Linked DNA regions of Homo sapiens. The protein of the gene in region 1 purifies or fractionates together with the protein of each later gene. This does not show direct contact. Each region holds a gene or a part of one and is shown in the gene's direction. Other genes may lie near its edges. The genes, in order: RCN2, ZNF546, OPA3, ZNF304, PRELID3B, ADCK5 and FKBP10.

Region 1 (3,073 bases):
GAGTTCAGGTACAACTTCAAAGGGGAAAATTGAATGGGATGTGCACATGTTGGCTCATATGTAGTTCTGATTGGGCCAATTTGCAGGACAGAAAATGATGTCTAGATTATGATATAAATTTAAAGGAAGCCAGGACGTTCAGAGGAAAAGCTAGCATATCATGTTTGCCTTACTTAGTTCTTTCCTTTGCAGTTTTAAAAATAGGCTTTTTTTTTTTTTAGTGTAGTTTTATGTTCACAGCAAAATTGAGCAAAAAGTAGTATAGAGAGTTTCAATATGTCCCCTGCCCCACATACGTACAGCCTCCCCCACTATCCTATCCTATATGTCATGAGATAGTACCTACCAGAGTGGTACATTTGTTAAAATCGATGAAACTGTTAACATATCATTGTCACCCAAAGTGCATAGTTTACATTAGGGTTCACTCTTGGTGCTGCACATGCTCTGGGTTTGGACAAATGTATAATTACATATTCCCACCATTGTAGTGTGGTAGAATATTTCCCTTGCCCTAAAGTCTTTCTGCTCCACCTATTCATCCCTCCCTTCCCTGTAACCCCAAGCAATACTGATCTTTTTACTGTTCATAATTTTTTAGATTGTAGTAAAATACACATAACAAAATTCATCTTAACAGTTTTTAATTGTACAGTTCGGTGGTATGGTATTAAATACAGTCAAAATGTGAAACTATTACCACCTTCCATCTCCATGAACTTCATTTGTAAAACGGAAATTTATACCCATTAAACAATAAAGCCCCCTTTCCCCTTCCCTTCAGCACCTGGCAAACACCATTCTAGTTTTTTTGTTTGAGATGGAGTCTTGCTCTTGTTGCCCAGGCTGGAGTGCAATGGCATGATTTCGGCTCACTGCAACCTCTGTCTCTTGGGGTCAAGCGATTCTCCTGCCTCAGCCTCCCGACTAGGTGGGATTACAGGCGGGCACCACCATGCCCCCTAATTTTTTGTATTTAGTAGAAATGGGGTTTCACCATGTTGGTCAAGCTGGTCTCGAACTCCTGATCTCAGGTGATCCACCTGCCTCAGCCTCCCAAAGTGCTGGAATTACAGGCGTGAGCCACCGTGCCCAGCCTCCCATTCTAGTTTTCTTTTTCTTTCTTTTTTGAGACGGAGTCTCACTCTTGTCATCCAGGCTGGAGTGCAGTGGTGCGATCTCGGCTCACTGCAACCTCCACCTCCCAGGTTCAAGCGATTCTCCTGCCTCAGCCTCCCAAGTAGCTGGGATTATAGATGCCCGCTACCACGCCCGGCTAATTTTTGTACTTTTAGTAGAGACGGGGTTTCGCCATGTTGGCATGGCTGGTCTCGAACTCTTGACCTCAGGTGATCCACCTGCCTCGGCCTCCCAAAGTGCTGAGATTACGGGCATGAGCCACCGCGCCCAGCCCCATTCTAGTTTGTGTCTATTAAAATAGACTCATATAGTATTTGTCTTTTTGTGAGTGGCTTCACTTAGCATAACGTCCCCAAAGTTCACCCATATTGTTACCAGAATTTCTTTCGTCAGGCTGAACAATACTTTATTGTTTGCATATACCACATTTTGCTTATCCATTCACCCTTTGATGGACACAGGTTGCTTCCACCTTTTATTGTGAATAATGCTGCCATGAATATGGGTGTACAAATATTTCTTTGAGATCCTGCTTTTAGTTCTTTTGGATATATATTATACATAGAAGTGGGATTGCTGGATCATATAGTAATTCTATATATATATATATATATATATATATATATATATATATTTTTTTTTTTTTTTTTTTTTTTTTTTTTTTTGAGACGGAGTCTCGCTCTGTCGCCCAGGCTGGAGTGCAGTGGCGCGATCTCGGCTCACTGCAGGCTCCGCCTCCCGGGTTCACACCATTCTCCTGCCTCAGCCTCCCGAGTAGCTGGGACTATAGGCGCCTGCCACCGCACCCGGCTAATTTTTTGTATTTTTAGTAGAGACGGGGTTTCACCGTGTTAGCCAGGATGGTCTTGATCTGCTGACCTCGTGATCCGCCCGCCTTGGCCTCCCAAAGTGCTGGGATTACAGGCGTGAGCCACCGCGCCCGACTAGTAATTCTATTTTTAATATTTTGAGGAACTGCCATAGTGTTTCCCACAGCAGCTGTGCCATTTTGCATTTCCACCAATAGTGCACAAGAGTTCCAGTTTCTTTACATCCTTACCAACACTTGCTATTTTCTGTTTTTTTTTTTTTCTTTTTTTTTTTTAATAGTAGCCATCCTGTTGGGTGAGACGTGGTATCTCGTTGTGGCTTTGATTTGCATTTCCCTAATGGTCTGTCTCTACAGTTTTGCCTGTTCCAGAATATCATTCCTTTGCAATTTAAATGTGAGGATAAATGTATGCTATTGTTTCTCAAACGTTTTTGTGTTACAATACCTCCTTTTGAGTGAGAAATGTCAACTCAAACTTACACTTTTTCACTTAGGAAGATGATTTAGGAAAGCCACTTAGAGTAAAAGTTTTTAAACAACTGTAAAAACTAATTTGCTTCATTGCAACATTTGAGTTCTGTCGAATAAATATTTGGCCAGATTTCCTGCCTGCTATAAAATTTTTTATAACTAGTAACCAATTACCTAAGGGCCTCCAGTGCAGCTACTAAAACGTCTCTATTTTATTTGGCGGGGGGGGGGGGAAACACCTCAATCCAAGCACAAAAAAAACAAGTACTGCTGAATACCTACAGTTTGCCCTATCTTTATCTCAAATTAACCAGTTAGTTCCTGAGCTGTAGAAAGGAAACCATTTGAGCTTATAAAACTATTTTAAAGTGATTATGGGGATTTTTAAAAATCTCATAGCTTTTAATCATGATTTTTCATACCTTAAAGAAAAAAACCCTACTTTTGCTTTCTGTTCCACAGAGATATTTTTCTTCTGAGACCAGGTTCCAATGAACAGAGGGCATCAACATTTTGCTCAGTTATTGTACCATTAGCAGTGATTGGTAACCTAAGTAGAGAGACTGTTCCATTACAATGACACACTAAAAGCATAAACTAAGGTCTTTTTGTGCCAGCTGCTGGCCTGTC
Region 2 (3,500 bases), on another chromosome or scaffold:
AACCTGTCTGTGCCCCAGGGCAGCTTTGAATGCAGTCCAACAGAAATTTGTAAGCTGTCTTAAAACATGAGATTTTTTTTGTGATTTTTTTTAAGCTCATCCGCCATTGTTAGCACATTTTATGTGTAGCCCAAGATAATTCTTCTTCCAGTGTAACCCAGGGAAGCCAAAAGATTTGACCCCCAGTAACTTCACACCTAAGGAGATTAGCAATAATTCCATAATCTGTAATATTCAGTCTGTGTTCATATTCTCAGTTGTGTTCATTCTTTTCATTTGTGTAAACAATGCTTTTCATAGGTTATTTTTAAATTCAGGAACCAAATTCATGAATTACATTTGTGCATTGTTCGTCTCTTTTAAAGTAAGAATGGCCCTTCCCCCCACAACTTTATTGCAACATTGACTTTTTTTTTTTTTTTTTTTTTTTTTTTTTGAGATGGAGTCTCTGTCGCCCAGGCTGGAGTGCAGTGGTGCGATCTTGGCTCACTGCAAGCTCCGCCTCCCGGGTTCAGGCAATTCTGCCTCAGCCTCCCCAGTAGCTGGGACTACAGGCGCCTTCAACCATGCCCGGCTAATTTTTTGTATTTTTAGTAGAGACGGGGTTTCACCATGTTAGCCAGGACGGTCTCGATCTCCTGACCTGGTGATCTGCCCGCCTCAGCCTCCCAAAGTGCTGGGATTACAGGCATGAGCCACCGCACCCGGCCTTCCCAAAGTATTTTTAAATGTGCTTTTTTATCCCCAGTATTTCCCATTAACTGGAATTTGGGATTAGAGACCCAATTAGGGACAGATTAAATATTTTGGCAAGAATACTTAATGGGAGAAATTTTGTATTTCAATTTGTAACCCATTAGGTGGCATACAATGTCATTATACCACTATGGTATCCTTAGTTCATTCACTTGGTGTAGCAGAACATACATTCCAAAGATGGCCACACCAATATATCCCATTCTGCATGTTCATCTTACAATGTGATACCAACACTCCCCAAGAGGTAGAGCTCATGGTCCTTCCTTTTGAATCTGGCCAGGTGGGCCTGTGTTTATGGCAGGAATAACACTGTGATTTCCACGACTAAGTCATAAAAGGCAATACAGCTTCTGCCTGACCCACTTGGGATGAAGCCCAGCCACCATGCTATGAAGATGCCAAGTAATCACATAGAAAAGCTAAGTAAAGCTGTCCTGATTACAGCTGTAATTGAGGTAACAGCCGGGATCCAGCACCAAGTGTATGAGGGTATGAGCCTTCAGATGATTCTAACCCTTAGCCTTCAGGCTATCCTAGCTGGTGCTAAGTGGAGCAGAGAAAAGCTTTCCCCCATGAGCCTGCCCAAATTGCAGATTTACGTTTAAAATATGGCCTGTTTTAAGCCACTAAGTTTTGGAGTAGTTTGCCACACAGCGATAGGTAACTGAAATACTTGCTTCATATGGTAATCACCAGGTTTCTCTGTTGTAGAGCTAAATATTTCTTTTAATTTAGTAAACGATCTGTAGAGTAGTACTTTGGCATTTCGGAAATTTAAAATCTCCAATAATATAATGACACTAGATCAAAAAGAAAATGAAACCATAAAGGACAATTTAGAAATGAATGGTAAGATCAGAATTTGTGAATGTGGCCAAACCTGTGCTCAGTGAAAAATCAGTAACCTGTTAATATATTCAGGAAACAAATATTGAGGGCCAGCACTTTGTTTCTCCTGCTCACCACTCTACTCCCAGTGACTTAATACTGTCTCTTTAACATAGTAATCACTTATAAAACTGTTAAAAGAATGAAGAAGCATTAAACTCAAGAAACTAAGGGAAAAATAAGTCAATATAAGAAAGAAGGGAGGATCATTAAAAGGAGTTAATGAATTTGAAAATAAAATAGACTTATTAAGGCTTTGTGAAAAAATATTAATACTTGATTTTAGTATAGCTAATCAAAGGAAAAAGATAATTACAGCATTGTGAATGAGAATTGGATGTAAGTACAGATGGAGGAGATATTTTTTGTTTTATTGAAAATTTCAAGGAGGAAGTAATATCAAAATTTCACTAGCTCTTTCTACACTGATATTATAATCCTGATAATACAACAGATGAGGATAGTTCTTAAAAGGCAAAAATGTAGGTGAGTCATTACGAAGAAAGCAGAAATTCTAAACCATCAGCACATTCATTCAAAAACCTAGTAAAGCAATTAAGCAAAATAATTTGTTTACTTGGACTGTCCAGGGATAGATCTGTTCTAGTTTTCCAAATTAATGATGGGAAAGGAAGAGCTGATCCAGTCCAAGTATCTTCAAGATCCATGTTCTCAGTTTTTCTTAGCTTTAAATGGCCAAATTGTGGCTTAGATTGGATATGATAATTTCCTCAATGCTTAACACTGAGCACAATTTTTCACATATTTGAAATCAAGGTGTATCTTACAATTTATGGCATCTGACAATACTTCCAACCAGGTGGCAGTCATCAAGCAGTTTTGTGAAAAGCCTTCCCGGTAAGAATACAAAAGCATCTGCACCAAAATATATAGATTTAATGGCATGTAGGGGTTTGCGTGAATATATACAGTTGAAATTCAATTCTTCCTTAAAAATAATTGTAACTCATTTCTTTAAGACTACCATACTACCACTTTCCTCAACTTGGACTAATGTCCATTGTCAACCAAAATGTCTGTGATCTCATGGATCCATTATGATTTGCAACTCCAGGTCCATTTTATGCAAATAAGACAGCCATAATATATCATTGTACAAGTCATTTACTATCTAATTATATCATTGCTCAACATTTGCAAATTATTTTTACAAATAACAATAATTGGATGTAACAAAAAGCAGAGTATTTTGAGACGTATATTAATGCAAAATATTGTTAATGTATCAGTGGATTGTTCCTCCAAAGTACCAGTGCCTTAACACAACATATCTAAAAGAACATCTCTGGGAACAGTAGTACTTAATGGCAACTTGAGAATTGGTTTGTGGGCACACAGCCTTGTGAAGTTTTGAATACTAAATCCCTTTTTTAAAAAAGTGCTTATTATCAGGCTATCAATCAAAAGATTTGAGTCTTTCAGTAAAGAAAATTTGCTTAATTTTATCTAGTGCATGATAAACTTTACTAAGGAAGTCTCATTCAGAATATCTAATATTTTGGATGTGAGCCCACACTGGAAATGCCATAACCAAAAAAGAGTGACCCTAAAGATAGAATATTCAGATCTAATGGCAGATGCTTAGCTATGCTGGGAAAGGAAGTGAATTGTATATTGCTCTGCTGCTCACATATTCCTCTGCAATAAATTGCTGGCCCAGTTTAGTTTTTATATACTCACTACTATACTAATGAGGATGGCTCAATTTTTTATTTGAACGTACTATAATGAATTTAAACTTTCATTGGTATTTATGTTTTAACAGGTTTTCACTATTTCAAATATACTTCAATAAATATCCTTGTCTGTGATCATTGGTTTATGTGAATTGG
Region 3 (3,500 bases), on another chromosome or scaffold:
GGGCGAAGCCACCATCTTCATCGTGGGCGGCGGCTGCCTAGTGCTGGAGTACTGGCGCCACCAGGCGCAGCAGCGCCACAAGGAGGAGGAGCAGCGTGCTGCCTGGAACGCGCTGCGGGACGAGGTGGGCCACCTGGCGCTGGCGCTGGAAGCGCTGCAGGCGCAGGTGCAGGCGGCGCCGCCACAGGGCGCCCTGGAGGAACTGCGCACAGAGCTGCAAGAGGTGCGCGCCCAGCTCTGCAATCCCGGCCGGTCCGCTTCCCACGCAGTGCCTGCGTCCAAGAAATAGGAGCTTGCTGGATGGAACCTGAATTTGGACATGGCCTATGTACCTAACGTGGCCTTCTTCCCGCACCACCCTTGCCTGCGCTGGCCCAGTGGAAACCACCAGGATCTTGATGCAACTTGGCATTTGGTTACCCCTGCTGATAAGAGCAGCCGTTACCTGCCACTGGGACCAGCAGGTGAAGCGTTGCAACATAGCCCCCTCCATCATCCTTCACCTCCTATCCCCCACTCCAAACCAGGACGACCTGCAAGGTCCCAGCCAGCAGGACACCGTGGGCACTCTGGCAAATGAAAAAATGGAACCTGGTCTTGAGCTGAATCAATGTGTTATTGTTACCCCCACCCCCGGTTTACCTGATCAGTGTTAACCTTTACTGGGACACTCATCTGTTACACTGGAACACCTTCTTCTTTTTGTCAATCGGCACAGACCACTGTAAGGAAATGCAGTGTGTTGCAGTGGCCTTTTCTCCCCCTCACCTTCTAAGGTCAGCTCTAGCTGAGCATCAGTGCTCTCTTAAGGAGGAAAAAAACGGTGCGGCTGGGAGCGGTGGCTCACGCCTGTAATCCTAGCACCTTGGGAGGCCGAGGCGGGCGGATCACTTGAGGTCAGGAGTTCCAGACCAGCCTGGCCAACATGGTGAAACTCCGTCTCTACTAAAAATACAAAAATTAGCCGGGTGTGGTGGGGTGCGCTTGTAATCCCAGCTACTCGGGAGGCTGAGGCAGGAGAATTGCTTGAACCCATGAGGTGGAGGTTGCGGTGAGCCAAGATGGCACCATTGCACCCTAGCCTGGGCAACAGAGCAAGACACCGTCTTAAAACCAAAAGTTAACCGGGCGTGGTGGTGGGTGCCTGTAATCCTAGCTACTTGGGAGGCTGAGGCAGGAGAATTGCTTGAACTTGGGAGGTGGAGGCCAAGATTGTACCACTGTATTCCAGCCCGGGTGACAGAGCAAGACTGTGTCTCAAAAAAAAAAAAAAAATCCTGGCTGGGCACGGTGGCTCACACCTGCAATCCCAGCACTTTGGAAGGTCGAGGTGGGCGGGTCATTTGAAGTCGGGAGGTCGGGAGATCGGGAGCTCGAGACCAGCCTGACCAATATGATGAAACCCCGTCTCTACTAAAAATACATAAATTAGCTGGGCATGGTGGCATGCACCTGTAATCCCAGCTACTTGGGAGGCTGAGACAGGAGAATTGCTTGAACCCGGGAGGCAGAGGTTGCAGTGAGCCGAGATTGCGCAATTGCATGCCAGCCTGGGTAACGAGCAAAACTCCATCTTAAAAAAACCCACAAAAGGTCCTGGCCTGCAGTCAATCCCTGGAATCATTGTACCTTCCCTTGAGACCCGAAGTGGACTATTCCAACAGAACCCCCTCATCCTTGAGTCTATGGCACAACCCACTGGAATGGCACTACAGGATCTTTTCTGTGAATGTCCTCCAACCCCCCTTTCCGTGGTGGGAAATTTGATCCTAACTAGGGCTAATCCAGCCTGTCCTTCAGCCTCAGCCCCCTATTTTCCTGTCCTCAGAGTCCCTGGAGCTTGTACTGTGTGGCATGTCCTTTCTTGCCTTCCCCACCTTGCTCAGTAGCATTTCTCAGGGACCCAGTCGAATCCAAGCCCATGGATTCAATTGTCACATCCTTCATCTTCCATCCGTGTCTCCTAATCTGTGTGCTCTTGCTTTCTTTCCTCGGAGCTCTGGACTGACCCGACAGCCTGTCTTCATGTAGCAGTACCCTCCTGCCTCCATAGCCCCCGGTCCCACCCCCATCCTACCAATTAGGCCAGCAGTTGGCCTTAACTGCTTGATTAATTTCCTTGGACTGCCATAACAGATCACCATTGGGTGGTGAACTTGATGGCTTAAGTCCAACAGGAATTTAATTCACACAGTTCTGGAGTCCAGAAGTCTGAAACCAAGGTGCTGACAGGGACACGCTCCCTCTTCCAGCTCCTGGTGATTCCAGGCCTTCCTTGGCTCTGCCTGCAGCTTCACATGGCCTTTTCCCTCTTCTATTTTGTCTCTTACAAGAACACCTGTCATTGCATTTAGGGCCCATCTTAAGTTCAGGATGATCCCACCTCAAGACCCTTAATTACATCTGAAAAAACACTTTTTCCAAATAAACTGTCATAAGCACAGGTCCTGGGGGTTAGTATGTGGACTTGTCTGTTGGGGGCACACCATTCAAGCCATTCAGCCCACTATTCCTCCTCACCCCAAGAGTACGCTGGCGTCCAGGTGCAGTGGCTCACACCTGTAATCCCAGCACTTTGGGAGACCAGGGCAGGAGGGATCTCTTTGAGCCCAGGAGCTGAAGACCAGCCTGGGCAACATAGTGAGACCCCATCTCTACAAAAGTAAAATAAAAAATTAGCCAGGTGCGGTGATGCATGCCTGTAGTCCCAGCTACTTGGGAGGCTGAGGCAGGAGGATCACCTGAGCCCTGGAGGTCGAGGCTGCAGCGAGCCGTGATCGCGCCACTACACTCCAGCCTGGATGACAGAGTGAGACCCTTTCTCAGAAAAAAAGTACCCTGGGACTCCTGCCAACCCCGCGGGCCATTTGGCCTTCCTGCTAGCTGAGAGGAACAGTCTAGGAACCACCCTTTTCTACTGGGTTTCTCTTCCAGGATCTGCCACTGAAGCGGGAGGGGGTGGGTCCCAGTAGCCTGCAGTCTGTCCTTCCGACTGTAGCTCTCTCATTAGAGGAGCTGCAAGGTGATGAAGGCATCCTGAGGCTGTACCTGAACCACCATGTGGATCTCCACAATGGGTACAGAGCTTATTAAAATCAGGAGGGAAACTGGGAGGGTTCTGATGGGGAGAGGCCCAAGAGTCACCCTATGAGCTGGGGAAACTAAGGCCAGGGGTAAGCAAAGGGACTTGCCAGAGATGCCACAGCCAGTGAGGGGCTGACTGCCCAGGGTGGTGAAGTAGTAGGGGCAGAGTGAGAGGCTTGGATTACCCCAGCTGCAGAGTGAGGAGGGAGAGGCGATGGCTGAGCAGAGGCTGGGAGGGTGACGATCTCTACACAGAGGCCCAGACCATCCCAGAGGTGGCGTTGATAGTGGGAGACCCTCTCTATCCCCTCTCAGAGCAGCCCCAGATCACACCAGAGATCATAGCATTGTGTAAACTGGGTGACCATTCCACCTGGGCCCGCTTTTGGGAAGCTGCAGGTGAAAGTGGGAGGGCC
Region 4 (4,078 bases), on another chromosome or scaffold:
CCATCTCTACTAAAAATACAAAATTAGCCGGGCATGGTGGCGGATGCTTGTAATCCCAGCTACTCGGGAGGCCGAGGCAGGAGAATCGCTTGAACCTGGGAGGGAGAGGTTGCAGTGAGCTGAGATCGTGCCATTGCACTTAAGCCTGGGCAACAAGAGTGAAACTCTGTCTCAAAAAAAAATTATAACTATTATCTATGATGCTATTTGATGAGTGAGGGAATAATTGTACTTTTTTCTTTTTTTTTCAAAATCACACTGATCCTGAAAAGGTGGATCTTTGATTTATCTTCCTAAAGCAGTGTATGTGAGAACCTTGTGTTGAGGAAGACTGATAACAGCTTGTATGTATTTAGCACGATGTGCCAGGCCTGGTGTTAAGTACTTTTTACCTCACTTCCCATATTCCTAATGAGGTTGGTTGTAGTGTTTTTCATCTTACTGATTTTTTTTTGTTTGTTTTTGTTTTGTTTTGTTTTTGGCTAATGACTTTAAAAGACCTCCAGTTCTTGAACTTCAGCTAGGGTCCCATCCCCAGAGTTTATCAGAAGGTATAGGTTGGGTCCAAGAATTCACAGGTTTTTTAAGTTCATAGTGAAGCTGATGCTGTAAAACTACATATCAAATTGGGAAGCAATGAATTAGAAGAGGCTCATGTTTTCGTCATGTTACATGTAAGTTCCTCCTTCACTTTTCGCCATGAATAAAAGTTCCCTGTGGCCTCACCAGAAGCAGATACGGGCACCATGCTTCCTGTACAGCCAGCAGAAAGGTAGCTAATTACATCTCTTTTCTTTATATGTTAGAAAAATTAGAAGGACATTCAATGTTTTACAAAAAGGCCCACAAACGAAATACAGACAACGTTCAATTTATTAATACGTTTCAATCCCCAAATCTGAGAGAGGTGAAGCAGGTTTCCCAGGGCCTCAGAAGCAGGATTGAAGAATGGGTCCCTTGCTGGCGACTTCAGTGGCGTGGCATTGTCCCAGGTGGCCATGGAAATCAGGGTGCATACCCTTTAAAAGCAGCTGTGGCCTCCGAGATATCGTTTTCCCAGTCTTTTCTCCCCCTCCCTGCACGACGCCTCTTGGCAGACATCCGGGAGAACCCGAAAGGCGCTCGTTGCCTGGTTGGATGCAGGGTACAAACTACGTTACCCAGAAATCTGTGCCCAGCTCATTGTTAGCCGGCGTGCAGCCAATGACAGCCCAGAAACTGGGCGTTTCCTGCTGCTCTGGGCTGCAGGGGCGAGACTTCTGGCGTCGCCGTCGTGACGTATTTTTCCTATGCCCGGTCCGTGCATTCTGGTTGTGAAGGCTGAGTTCTAGAGATCGGGTCGGCTTTCTACGCGGCTCTCGTGGAACCTAGCAAAGAAAGACAGTGAAGACTGCAGGACCTTCCTTCGCGCTTTTGTTACAATCCATGACCCCTGTCGTGGGACGGGCGGCCTCTCGCGGAGGTGTCTGCCGGGGCTGGGCTCTTACCGAGGCCTCCACACACGTCCTCTTGTCCTTGTCTCCCCCAGAAGCAGCCGCCTTAGTCTTGTGAGCGTTTTTACACCGGGTAGATTGAGACTTGGAGTGCTACACTCAGCCCGAGGGCGTCCAGCGCGGTGGAGGCGTGGGGTTTCGGCTGAGCCCACAGGGCACAGACTGTTCATCCGCTTCTCATGGCAGCGGCGGTGCTGATGGACCGGGTTCAGGTGAGTGGGGGCATCCCTCAAGCGCACCCCGGCCTGGTTGGTGTGTCCTGGGATGTTCGCTCTCATCGCGCACTTCAGGGTGCTCACTCCGTCGCATTATGTGGAGGGGTTCCGCTCCCCTCATCAGTGGCATAAGGTGTGGAACGGACTCGAAGGCGCAGGGGCAGTTCGTACAAATGCATGCATGGAGAGGAGAATGAGTTTGGGGAGTTCCGGGAACTCTCTGTGCCTGGTGAGAACAGGGACTAGGGGGTCAGAGGTAGGCCTGGAATGGCCGCCCGAGGAGCTGGTCCTCTCTTCTGAGGGTGCTGGGAGTCATGCAAGGTTTGGTACAGAGAAGGGAGGTCCTCTGACGCAGTTCTTAAAAGGCTCCCTCTGGCTGCAGAGTGGGTAGACTAGGGATTATAGGGTAGACGGGGAGATCAAGATGAAGTCTACTGAAATAGTCCAGGTGAGCGTTGATGGTCTGGGCCAGAGTGGTGGCAGCAGAGGTTAGAGAATGTATGGGTTTTGGGTTTTGTATGTATTTTATAAGGAAGGCTGACCAGATTCTCTGATGAGACATAGTGATGATATCCTGGGATTCTTCACATGACTGTCTTCACTTGAGACAGGGGGCAGTGAATGGAGGTCATTTCTAGTTTAGTGTCCTGAATCCAGGCCATGAGTTGTATGGAGTTATGTGGAGAAGTCCCCACCTGGCGACCAATGGGATGAGTACTGCAAAAGTATATCAGACCTAGGAACAGGTACGCTCAAATGCTTGTAGGATTGAGTTTGGAGCGCTCAGGGAATCTCAGGTCTTAATTACCTTTGTTGGAAACAGGTATCAGAGGAAGGAGTTAGGCAGGAATGGCTGGCCGAGGTGTCTTGAGTGTGGTAAAAGTCGTGGGAGATTTGGAGCAGAGGAGGGAGATGATCTGACTCAGATTTTAACATGCTCTCTCTGGCTTTCAGGTTGAGAACAGACTGTGAGCATGAGGGAGCAGCTACTGCAGTAGTGTTGATGGTGTCTGGTCTAGAGGTGTGGCTGTGGAGGTGAGAGAAGTTGGTAAATTTTCTGTTTTTTAAAGTAGGGTGATTGGATTTTTTGATGCGAAAGGTGAAAGAGAGGAGAGTCGTGGATGACCCTAAGGTTGGTTTGTTTTTGCTGTAGCTGGTAAAATTATGAAAATGCCATCAACTGAGATAGAGAAGTTGGCAGCAGGTATGATTTTTAGTGGTTATATCAGGAGTTAGGCTTTGGTCATGTTTAGGTTAAGAGGTCTCAGTTGTCATCTTAGTTGAGGCCTCAGGAAAACACACAGGTTTTTAGTTCTGGGGAAGGGTTCTGTTGAAGAAGTTGAAAAAAATGGTGGCCAGTGTGTGGAGTGGGATGGGGTATCTTCAAATCATGGTGGTAATGCTGTTATTCAGTAAGAAAGTTGAAACTGGACACTGAGAGAAAACTGGGTCTGTTGCTTAGGCACCTGGACGGCAGTGGTGGATAGTGTGAAGACGCGAGCGCTTCCTGGACACTGCTTGCAGAGTGGCATGGGGGATGAGGGATGTCATGGAGGTGCATATGGCATGGGCCAGTGGCGGTGGGGATCTCAGATGTGAGGAAGGTGTAGTCCAAAGAGTAATGAGCACGTTGGGAGGAGTGTGAACTGATGCCCTTAAGACTCTAGTATTGGCAGCTCATGGGAGAAGATGGAGCTGAAGTTTGGTTGTGTTTAGAGGCATCGTCTGGACAACACCAGGAGAACTGGTTGGTAGGCGAGTATTTGGGACCCTTCATGCCAGACCCAGAGTTGAGACAGCATCTGTCTGCACACTTGCCTGGTTCTGCTCTGGGCTGGACACAGTGGTGAGAGGGACATGAGGAGAGAGCAGACACTAGTGGTGCCAAGGTCTGTTATCTCCTCTTAGTTGGGAGGCTGGGGAGGCGAGGGACTAGAGAGTGGGTGTGTGAGTGTGTAGACTGGGGAGGAGGGGGTTCTGGGGAGAGATGCTGACTGTGGACTCAGCTGTACTTATCATGGCAGAGTTGTGTGACCTTCGAGGATGTGTTCGTGTACTTCTCTCGGGAGGAGTGGGAACTCCTTGAGGAGGCACAGAGATTCCTGTACCGTGATGTGATGCTGGAGAACTTTGCACTTGTGGCTACACTAGGTAAGTCTGTGTTTTAGTTATCTAATGCTACATGGCAAATTATCCCAAAGCTTAGTAACTGCAAACAATAAAAATCAATTATCTCTCCAGTTTCAGTGCATTGGTAATCTGGTTAGAGCATTTTTTGTTGTTTATTATTTTGAGGGTTTTTTTTTTGTTTTTTGTTTTTTGTTTTTTCAGAGAGTCTTACTCTGTCACCCAGGCTACAGTGCAGTGTTG
Region 5 (3,500 bases), on another chromosome or scaffold:
TTCTGGGAAATTAATGGAGTTGAGATTTTCCTTTTGTCAACGAGATGTAGTTGTCAATCTGAGTTCTCTAAAAGGTTGGAATAATGTCTACTTGTTTTACTTTTAGAAAAATAAAAAGTAATGCTGTGTGGCTTAACAGTCATTGTGGCTTGAACATCATCCCCAGATCTTGTCTTTTTCCTTTAAATGAAGATGAGAGCACAGATAAGTAGTGTAGAAAGCATCCGAATCAGACTGCAGGTGGACTAAGTCACCTTTAATACTGATTGTACTTAATAAGGGGTCCTTTTGAAAATGATATTTTTTGTACAAGTGTCTTATTCACAGAAGTTGTGAAGTGAACAAAGGTTGCATCACATTTTGAATCATCCAAGCACATGTGCCTTTTTGAAGAAAATAAAGATACTGCAAGTTCTCAAGTGATGTGATATTATTACCACTTCAATACTAGGTGATAAGCAAGTGCTTATTATATTAAAAGAGAATATTAGAAAATAGTATATTAGGAGTGCACCTTAAGGACATTTTATTATATTGAGTGACCTTTTCAAAACAGAAATCAGAATCACTCTTTTGAGAAAAACAGTAGATAAAGATTGACTGGAGGAGCCATTGTTATGTATTACATTAAAATGAAGGGAAAGTTCAATAATTAAATCAATGCTTTGGATCTTTTTGTGATCCCTGTAAGAATTTATAGTGCCCATAAACTCTTTTACTTTTGTTACTTCCGTATAAACTGATAGAATTGGGGTCAGAAAAAATAATAAATGGCATAATGATACTTTTGGCTATTTGTTTCAGTAGAACATAATTTTTAAATACATTTTCATGAATCATTGGTTCTTCCTAGAAACAATTTACATGTGAAAGTGGATAAGGATAAGTAGGAAAGATGGTGTAGACTGCTTTGATCTTTATAGATATGAGTTTTTTTACATAGCCTGTATTGTGGAAAAATACTGAAGCCTGTTAAAAATGTAGATCAGTTTCCCATAATCATCAGTGTTTCAGAAGGTAATTTTTCCTAGGTAAACTCATTAAACTTACATTGTAATGAATGATTTGATAGATTATAAAAATTGTTTAACTCATATGCATAATTTTAAATGTCTGAATTTTTTTTTTTTTTTTTTTGGTTCACATCGGCAGCCACCCGTGGGAAACTGTTACAACAGCTGCAATGCAGAAATACCCAAACCCTATGAACCCAAGTGTGGTTGGAGTTGATGTGTTGGACAGACATATAGATCCCTCTGGAAAGTTGCACAGCCACAGACTTCTCAGCACAGAGTGGGGACTGCCTTCCATTGTGAAGTCTGTAAGTGTGTCTTTATTCCCGGAGAAATGTGACTGCTGTAGAGAAGTTTTCTAAACCGCATTATACTTTCAAATAGGTTGTGGGAGCCGATTCTGAATGTCATTTTTTGCATCCGTTCAAGTTGTATTATAATAAACTTGAATTATGAGTGTATAATGAATTGGAAATATTATTACAGTCTTCATGAAGGCACCCAATAAAATTTTCTTAAGGAAGCCAGCTAATGCCGTGTGATCTGAAAGGAGTTCTATTCTGCTTTTTCTGCTTTTGCCAGCAACTTGAGACCAATACTAAGGTTTGGCAGTAATGGTCTGGTCATAATTGTTAGGTGACAGTTCTGTGGTCAGTGGTGGGTTGTGTACATTAAGTAAGGACTATGTTCTCGGACTTGTTATTGCCACATTTGTTCCAAGGTCTGGAACTCCTTCCTGTACATTTAGAAACAATTCTATTCCCTTAAGAATGAGCAGGCTTTAGTGAGCAGATTTTACCAGGAAGAAACTAAAATGCCAGTTTACCATAATGCGAGAAAACTGGTATAATAAGTGGATCCAGGTTTCTTTAGAGGGTCTCTTTATGGAGAGTAGGTTCACTAAGAAAACTAAAGTACACATTTTCAATAGGAATGTACTTACTGCCTCCTTATGCAAACCATAGTGCAGACACAGAAATGAGCAGGGTCAGGGGGTGGGCTTGGGGTCATAGCACAGGGAGTGACAGTGGACACTGACGTGTGAGCCTCCATCGTAAGAACGCTGTTTTTCTGTCTGGAGAATGAAGCTGAGGTGCCCCCTCCCTTGGGCTGTTCTAGGAAGATACTGACAGATGCCTTTGAGTTCTCCTTTTTCTAGCTGCCATGTTGCCCCAAACCTGATTTCCATATCTCAGCCTCAGCGCTCCACCGTCGCACCGCGGCAGATTCAGCGTGCTGCCTCACGTTGCAGACGTTCTCAGTGGGCTGGTTTCTAATTGCCTCCGGGAAAAGTTTTTGTGTCTGGCAGTCTCCTCTCATCCATGATATGTGAATAGGCCTCCTTTCTGACCTTTGCTTGTTTCCTCTGGTTTTTAGAAAACAGATTTTTGGTTCAAAATATTGTAACACATTTTTTCCTTCAAATAAAATATTGATAGACTTGGTAAGAAATTCTTCCTCCTCTGATTCCTAGTTCTGAATGTTTTACTTAGCTTATTGGTGCAGCAAGAACGAAAACATATGTGCAAGAACATTCTGTAGTTGATCCTGTAGAGAAAACAATGGAACTTAAATCTACTAATGTAAGTCTTGGCTCCCTTTTGTTTCATTTCGAACTGTCTGGCTGAGTTCTTTGTCCCTCTCCTAGTTGCCGTAGAAGTGAGTGCGTGTTCATGATGTGGTTCAGAGAATCCCTGCTTATGTGCTGGCCTAACTTGGCCCTGGATGTTGCTTCCTTACCCTTCCTGCTCTCATGATCTTGCCTATCTCTAAGGGGATAGCACTCAATAAAATGAGTTTGGGATTATGTGTATTATCATTATTATACTTTATTTCCTCAACTTTGCTTTTTAAATAAAAAGTAGGCAGTGAATAGTTTATGCAATAATAGCAGCGGTTTATTTGTTGTTTTGTATGTTTAGTAAGATTTTGGCTTGTGTGTTGATTTTAGCAACATTTTGAATCTTCAGTTCCAAAATGATTTGATCTTTTTTTTTTTTCTTCATTCTGTAGATTTCATTTACAAACATGGTTTCAGTAGATGAGAGACTTATATACAAACCACATCCTCAGGATCCAGAAAAGTGAGTAAAAAATATTTTAACAAATGTATCGTAAAGGGTGTTTAAGGTTTTTTTATCAAGTTTTTTGAAAATGAAAGCTGGGTCATCTGAACCTGTGTGAATATGTTTTGTTCCAGAACTGTTTTGACACAAGAAGCCATAATTACCGTGAAAGGAGTTAGCCTCAGCAGTTACCTTGAAGGACTGATGGCAAGTACGATATCCTCAAATGCTAGTAAAGTAAGTGAGGCTGCTTCTTGGTTATTATTCCCTGGTTCATTTCCTGGGAATGGAATGGGGTGCTGACTGCATGTGTGTCCTTGTAAGCTGACCCTTGCCCATTCTACCATAGGAAACTGCAGCACGTTGGGCAGTTACTTACAAAGGCTCTGGGTTCACATCCAAGCTCTAACTTTTAGCCTTT
Region 6 (3,500 bases), on another chromosome or scaffold:
AGTTCCTTACTAGGTCCAGTGTTGAGGACCATGTTAGCGTCTGTGCCACGGGGCATGACTGGCTATGCACAGTCCTTTCCACCCAAACCGTGACTTGTGTGAAGAGCTCTCAGTTGGGGAATTTGGGGAGTTGTGAGACCTCATCCTAGGTCAAGTGTGATTGGGAGACCAAGGTTTCCAGTGAGAGCTGTGGTGTTTTCTTTCTTTTTTTTAATAATACTGTAAGTTCTATGTGGTGTTTTCATAGTCACAAAAATAAAGCAGGGCCATGTGTCAAGAGTCTCATGGTGGGGCTTCTTTATTTATGTATTTATTTTTCTAAATGGAGTCCCATTCTGTTGCCCAGGCTGGAGTGCAGTGTCTCAATCTTGGCTCACTGCAATCTCCGCCTACCAAGATCAAGCGATTCTCCTGTCTCAGCCTCCCAACTACCTGGGATTACAGGTATGCGCCATCACACCTGGCTACTTTTTTTGTATTTCTAGTAGAGACAGGGTTTCGCCATGTTGGCCAGGATGGTCTTAATCTCCTGACCTCATGATCCACCCGCTTTGGCCTCCAAAAGTGCTGGGATTACGGGCGTGAGCCACCGCGCCTGACCCTTGGGACTTCTTTACGTGTGTCCTGCTAGCTGCAGCATGTCCTCTTCTCCTCCAAGTAAAAGATGTACAGGGTCCCTGTCTGTGGGGTCTCAGTAAGTTGTAAGTTTCTTCATCTGCTTTCAGAACAGTGACCTACGTAGGCCACTCCTCCCATCCGGGCGTCCACCTTCAAGGTTGGCGTCTGCTGTATGATTCCATGGCTGGGCACTGTTGCCACTTCCTTCGGAGATGAGGACTGCTTTCCTCTGGCCACTGGTCAGTGGTCTCAGCAGCAGGAAATAGTAAAATAGTAAATGACAGGTCAGGGTGCTGCCAAGAGAGTGCAGGGGCAGGGATGGGGTGGGTCCCATCCCAGATGAGCCAGATGGTGATGCCATCTCTTCCTGCAGAGACTGAGGGGACATTCAGAGACGGGGTATGTTTGATGCCCTGTCAGCATCTGAGGCATCAGCCCTGGTTAAGCTGCGTTTAGCCTTCTCTCCTATGATACTTTGACACTCAGCCTTGCTCCCAGGAGGTAGGATAGTGTTTCCATTACGGAATCAAAGATGGGAACCTGGCTTCCTGGCATGATCCCAGCGGTGCTGGCAGTCTTTGCTGACTGACTTGGTGATGTGGTTTGGCTTTGTGTCCCCACCCAAAGCTCATCTGAGTCGCGATTCCCAGTGTTGGAGGAGGGGCCTGGTGGGAGGTGATCTGGTCATGGGGGCAGATTCCCCCTTGCTGTTGTGGTGATAGTGAGTGAGTTCTCAGATCTGATGGTTTAAAAGTGTGTGTGGCACTTTCCCCTTTGCCCTCTCGCTTGCTCTCTCTCTCTCTCCGCCCCCCCCACTGCTTCACCCATACTGTGCTTGCTTCCCATTTGCCTTCTGCCATGACTGTAAGTTTCCTGAGGCCTCTCAGTGGTGCTTCCTGGACAGCCTGCAGAACTGTGAGTCAGTTAAACCCAGGCCAGGTGCGGTGGCTTACACCTGTAATACCAGCACTTTGGGAGGCTGAGGAGGGCAGATCACTTGAGGTCAGGAGTTCTAGACCAGCCTGGCCAACATGGTGAAACTCCGTCTCTACTAAAATACAAAAATTAGCTGGATGTGGTGGCGTATGCTTGTAGTCCCAGCTACTCGGGGGGCTGGGGCAAGAGAATCACTTGAACTCGGGAGGCGGAGATTGTAGTGAGCCGAGATTGTGCCATTGCACTCCAGCCTGGGCGACAGAGTGAGACTCCATCTCAGAAAAACAAACAAACCTATTTTCTTCATAAATTACCCAGTCTTGCTTGGGTAGTTCTTTTTTTTTTTTTCTTGAGATGGAGTTTCGCTCTGTTGCCCAGGCTGGAGTGTAGTGGCGCGATTTCAGCTCACTGCAACCTCTGCCTCCCGGGTTCAAGCGATTCTCCTGCCTCAGCCTCCCGAGTAGCTGGGATTACGTACATGCACCACTATGCCCAACTAATTTTGTATTTTTAGTAGAGACGGGGTTTCACCATGTTGATCAGGCTGGTCTCAAACTCCTGGCCTCAGATGATCCACCCGCCTCGGCCTCCTAAAGTTCTGGGATTAAAGGTGTGAGCCCCTGTGCCCGGCCTGGGTAGTTCTTTAGAGCAGTGTGAGAATGGACTCACACATTAGGTTTAGAGTTAGGCTGCCTCAGACTCCAGCACATGTAAGTGCTGGTACTGGTTGAGGGCAGGGGCGTGTCCTGGCCTCGTTCGACCCCACACAATTTCCTCTCTTTGCAGGTGCAGCTCTGTCATTTCCACTCTGCTCTGCTGCACAGCAGGCAGAAGCCCTGGCCGTCCCCTGCTGTGTTCTTCAGGAGAAACGTCAGGGGCCTTCCTCCAAGGTAACGAGTCCTCCACGGGCATGCGCCTCTCACCCAGGCAGGCATGGATGGCGTCTGTGTGCATGCAGAGGTGGCAGTCGAGGGCCCAAGGCTGGACCTTCTCCTGTACCCACAACCAAGGCAGGATATGTTTGCTCCTCAGTGCGGTGCACTGGGACCAAAGACCCCCAGGGACCCATGGGACCGTGCTCAGGGGTGGGCACACCCTGATCACAGCATTTAGAGCAGACAGCTAGCAAATCGGGAAGGGTGCACATGGAGCGCCTGCTCTGAAGAGCAAACCGGGTCATTCAGAGCATGGAGGAGGGCGGGGTGACTATAGGTGGGAGTCACACAAGAGGAAGAGCAGCAAGAAGAGATGTGGAGGGATGGGTCTGAGCAGAAGGAAAGGCCAGACAATGTCCTGAGGCCAGCAAGTCCGGACCACAGTGCGCAGATGGACGGTGGCAAGGCAGGAAGGCCGTGGAGGGTAGATGTGGCCAGGCAGGGCAGGCAGGGTGAGCTGTCCAAGCGCCACTGGCTCAGTGAACCTGGCAGGGGTCTCCTTCTCCCGAGAGCTCTGCAGTAGGACAACCTGTGTCCCTGGGACAGATGCGGCCAGCTACAGAAACAGATGGGTGCTCAGGCGCCTGCGGCTGGGTGCAGAAACAGATGTGCACTCAGACACCTGCTGCACTCAGGATTATGGGCCGGGTGTAGAAACAGATGTGTGCTCAGGCACCTGCTGCACTAAGGATTATGGGCCGGGTGTAGAAACAGATGTGTGCTCAGGCACCTCCCGCAGTCAGAATTATGGGCCGGGTGTAGAAACAGATGTGTGCTCAGGCACCTCCCGCAGTCAGAATTATGGGCCAGGTGTAGAAACAGATGTGTGCTCAGGCACCTGCCGCAGTCAGGATTATGGGCCGGGTGTAGAAACAGATGTGTGCTCAGGCACCTGCTGCACTCAGGATTATGGGCTGGGTGTAGAAACAGATGTGTGCTCAGGCACCTGCTGCACTCAGGATTATGGGCTGGGTGTAGAAACAGATGTGTGCTCAGGCGCCTGCTGCACTC
Region 7 (3,500 bases), on another chromosome or scaffold:
GCATGCCTGTGATCCCAGCTGCTACTTCGGAGGCTGAGGCAGGAGAATCGCTTAAACCCGGGAGGTGGAGGTTGCAGTGAGCTGATTGCACCACTGCACTCCAGCCTGGGTGACAGAGCCGAGACTCCATCTCCAAAAATACATATGTATAAGTAAAAATAAATACATTAATTAAAAGTGTATAACTAAAAACAAACAAAAGCCATGGCACTTTTAGAATAGGCTTTTTTTTTTTTTTTTTTTTTTGAGAGGGAGTCTCACTCTGTCGCCAGGCTGGAGTCCAGTGGCACGATTTCGGCTCATTGCAACCTCCGCCTCCCGGGTTCACGCCATTCTCCTGCCTCAGCCTCCTGAGTAACTGGGACTACAGGCGCCCGCCACCACACCTGGCTAATGTTTTGTATTTTTAGTAAAGACGGGGTTTCACTGTGTTAGCCAGGATTGTAGAATAGGCCTTTTCAAAATGTGAAACCAGCTCCCACCCCACCTCTGCTCTCCCGTCTTTTCTTGGAGAGCCAATAGTATAATGGCAAATTTTAGAACTCAGCTGACTACATATTAGCTGTGTGACCTTGGGCAAGGCACTGAGTCTCTCAAGTCTCCATTGCTCTCATTAAGAAAAATGAGAACAAGAATGCCCACCTCACAGGGGAGACAAAGAAGATACGGAATGTAAAATGCCAAGCATTTAATCCCATATAGTAATGCTCCTCTGCCCCTCCGTGCTGTACGTACCACTCCCCACTTGCTGTCAGCAAATAGTAGCAGCCATCAGGCCCGGGCATCCCACCCAACCCCGTCCCAGGGCAATAGCAGCCCTTGTCCTCCTCAGGGACTTGCCTTTCACAACAGTCCGTTCTCTTAAGGTGGGCGTCACGGCCGACCTAGGAGGGGGACTTGAAAAGGAGGTGAGAAGTGTGTGTGCGTATCCACACCTGGCTATAGGGAGGGGGGATTGTGTGCGTGTGTGCAGGCACACCTGTGCATCTGTGCCACCATGGGCAGTGTGTGTGTGTCTGAGGTCACTGTATCCCATCTGTCCCTCCCCCCCCAGCTATGATCGCAACACCTTGGTGGCCATCGTGGTGGGTGTGGGGCGCCTCATCACTGGCATGGACCGAGGCCTCATGGGCATGTGTGTCAACGAGCGGCGACGCCTCATTGTGCCTCCCCACCTGGGCTATGGGAGCATCGGCCTGGGTGAGAAGGGCTGGGGCACAGGCCGGGGGTGGAGGAGACCACGAGGCAGAATCAGGGATCCTGGGGTGAGAAAACTGAAGTGCGGAGATGAGGAGTGACTTGCCCAATGTCACACTGTGCACGCAGTATGAAGAGTGGCAGCTCTGGCTGGGGCAGTAGCTGACATATATGGTCCCAGAGTTTTGGGAGGCCGAGGTGGGAGGATTGCTTGAACCCAGGAGTTCCAGACCAGCCTAGGCAACATAGTGAGACCTCGTCTCTACAAAAAATAAAATAAATTATCCAGGTGTGGTGGTGTGTGCCTGTAGTCCCAACTACTCAGAAGGCTCAGGTGGGAGGATTGCTTGACCCCGGGAGGCTGCAGTGAGCCATGATCATGCCACTGAATTCCACCCTGTGTGACAGAGCAAAACCCCTCTTTTTTTCTTTTTCTTTTTTTTTTTGAGACAGCATCTCACTCTGTTGCACAGGCTGGAGTTTAGTGGTGCGATCTCGGCTCACTGCAACCTCAGCCTCCTGGGCTCAAGCAGTCCTCCCTCTCAGCCTCCCAAATAGCTGGGACTACAGGTGCACACCACCACACGTGGCTAATTTTTTGTATTTTTAGTAGAGATGGGGTTTCGCCATGTTGCGCAGGCTGGTCTTGAACTCCTGGGCTCAAGCCATCCACCTGCCTTGGCCTCCCACAGTGCTGGGATAACAGGCATGAGCCACTGTGTCTGGCCCCCTATCTCTTAAAAAAAAAAAACAAAAATAGTGGCATCTCTGTCCCTGGTTTGGGTCTCTTGGTGCTGGGATGAGAGGAAGGGGAATAACAGGGCCCTGGCTGGGATCGTGGTTGGCAGAGCAGAACTCTGAGACCTCCACGCTGCTGCGCTCTCACAGCGGGGCTCATTCCACCGGATGCCACCCTCTACTTCGATGTGGTTCTGCTGGATGTGTGGAACAAGGAAGACACCGTGCAGGTGAGCACATTGCTGCGCCCGCCCCACTGCCCCCGCATGGTCCAGGACGGCGACTTTGTCCGCTACCACTACAATGGCACCCTGCTGGACGGCACCTCCTTCGACACCAGGTGAGGGGCTGGAGGGGAGCCCTGAGGCACTGGGGACTGTGGCATGGGGAGCGGGAATCCGGGGCCCAGCCTGCCTCTCCCACCTCCACCTCATTTTCTGCAGCTACAGTAAGGGCGGCACTTATGACACCTACGTCGGCTCTGGTTGGCTGATCAAGGGCATGGACCAGGGGCTGCTGGGCATGTGTCCTGGAGAGAGAAGGAAGATTATCATCCCTCCATTCCTGGCCTATGGCGAGAAAGGCTATGGTGAGGGTGGGCAAGGACACAAGGGGAAATTCCGCAGAAGAGGGAAAAACCAGGCCTCCACATACAGTTGCTCAGGTTGTATACTGCACGAGGGCATCCAACCAAGGACTCAAGGTGGGATGAAATCTACCCTTGGTGCTACTAAGAAGGGGTGCTTTGGCCGGGCGTGGTGGCTCACGCTTGTAATCCCAGCACTTTGGGAAGCCAAGGCGGGAGGATCACGAGGTCAGGAGATCGAGACCACGGTGAAACCCCGTCTCTACTAAAAATACAAAAAAATTAGCCGGGCGTGGTGGGGGCGCCTGTAGTCCCAGCTACTCGGAGAGGCTGAGGCAGGAAAATGACGTGAACCCGGGAGGCGGAGCTTGCAGTGAGCCGAGATCGCGCCACTGCACTCCAGCCTGGGTGACAGAGCGAGACTCTGTCTCAAAAAAAAAAAAAAAAAAAGAAGGGGTGCTTTATTCTGATTCACACGAAGGCTCAGTATGAGCCGGTGGTGGCCCTGGGGAAAACCCAGCTCAGGTCTTACTGGAGGAGCAAGAAGCAGGGCTGCTGATGGGCGGGAAAGGGCTCTGGAGAGTGGGGCTAGTGTCTTGCATGGTGCCCACTGGGCCTTCCTGAGTCAAGAAGGAGCCTCGGCTTGCTCCCCAATTTTATGGTTCAAGCCCTATCCCTTCCCCAGGGACAGTGATCCCCCCACAGGCCTCGCTGGTCTTTCACGTCCTCCTGATTGACGTGCACAACCCGAAGGACGCTGTCCAGCTAGAGACGCTGGAGCTCCCCCCCGGCTGTGTCCGCAGAGCCGGGGCCGGGGACTTCATGCGCTACCACTACAATGGCTCCTTGATGGACGGCACCCTCTTCGATTCCAGGTCAGGAGGGTCTTGAGGTGGGAGGGCGGGGGCTGGGTGAAACGTGGACGAAGCTGGGGGTCACTCTGAGCTGCCTGGAAGGGGAGGGCCCCTTTGACTCCCTT

Evidence for each region.
Region 2: the proteins of RCN2 (region 1) and ZNF546 purify together in Homo sapiens (co-immunoprecipitation; one large-scale study listed by IntAct). This does not show direct contact.
Region 3: the proteins of RCN2 (region 1) and OPA3 purify together in Homo sapiens (co-immunoprecipitation; one large-scale study listed by IntAct). This does not show direct contact.
Region 4: the proteins of RCN2 (region 1) and ZNF304 purify together in Homo sapiens (co-immunoprecipitation; one large-scale study listed by IntAct). This does not show direct contact.
Region 5: the proteins of RCN2 (region 1) and PRELID3B purify together in Homo sapiens (co-immunoprecipitation; one large-scale study listed by IntAct). This does not show direct contact.
Region 6: the proteins of RCN2 (region 1) and ADCK5 purify together in Homo sapiens (co-immunoprecipitation; one large-scale study listed by IntAct). This does not show direct contact.
Region 7: the proteins of RCN2 (region 1) and FKBP10 fractionate together in Homo sapiens (co-fractionation; one large-scale study listed by BioGRID). This does not show direct contact.

The regions. Positions count from the first base shown.
Region 1 is NC_000015.10:76,951,821-76,954,893, forward strand, and holds the end of RCN2 (reticulocalbin-2 isoform a precursor), read left to right. Parts: 3' UTR 1-2,573; downstream 2,574-3,073.
Region 2 is NC_000019.10:40,017,560-40,021,059, forward strand, and holds the end of ZNF546 (zinc finger protein 546), read left to right. Parts: 3' UTR 1-3,479; downstream 3,480-3,500. UniProt on the Homo sapiens protein: May be involved in transcriptional regulation.
Region 3 is NC_000019.10:45,550,303-45,553,802, reverse strand, and holds part of OPA3 (optic atrophy 3 protein), read left to right. Parts: coding exon 1-289; 3' UTR 290-3,500. UniProt on the Homo sapiens protein: May play some role in mitochondrial processes.
Region 4 is NC_000019.10:57,349,993-57,354,070, forward strand, and holds the start of ZNF304 (zinc finger protein 304), read left to right. Parts: upstream 1-1,278; 5' UTR 1,279-1,672; coding exon 1,673-1,705; intron 1,706-2,662; exon of another isoform or gene 2,663-2,743; intron 2,744-3,732; coding exon 3,733-3,859; intron 3,860-4,078. UniProt on the Homo sapiens protein: Acts as a transcriptional regulator and plays a role in gene silencing.
Region 5 is NC_000020.11:59,036,287-59,039,786, reverse strand, and holds part of PRELID3B (PRELI domain containing protein 3B), read left to right. Parts: intron 1-1,152; coding exon 1,153-1,321; intron 1,322-2,506; coding exon 2,507-2,596; intron 2,597-3,026; coding exon 3,027-3,097; intron 3,098-3,213; coding exon 3,214-3,316; intron 3,317-3,500.
Region 6 is NC_000008.11:144,377,047-144,380,546, forward strand, and holds part of ADCK5 (uncharacterized aarF domain-containing protein kinase 5), read left to right. Parts: intron 1-350; exon of another isoform or gene 351-444; intron 445-2,340; coding exon 2,341-2,444; intron 2,445-3,500. UniProt on the Homo sapiens protein: The function of this protein is not yet clear. It is not known if it has protein kinase activity and what type of substrate it would phosphorylate (Ser, Thr or Tyr).
Region 7 is NC_000017.11:41,816,004-41,819,503, forward strand, and holds part of FKBP10 (peptidyl-prolyl cis-trans isomerase FKBP10 precursor), read left to right. Parts: intron 1-1,054; coding exon 1,055-1,200; intron 1,201-2,085; coding exon 2,086-2,275; intron 2,276-2,378; coding exon 2,379-2,524; intron 2,525-3,206; coding exon 3,207-3,396; intron 3,397-3,500. UniProt on the Homo sapiens protein: PPIases accelerate the folding of proteins during protein synthesis.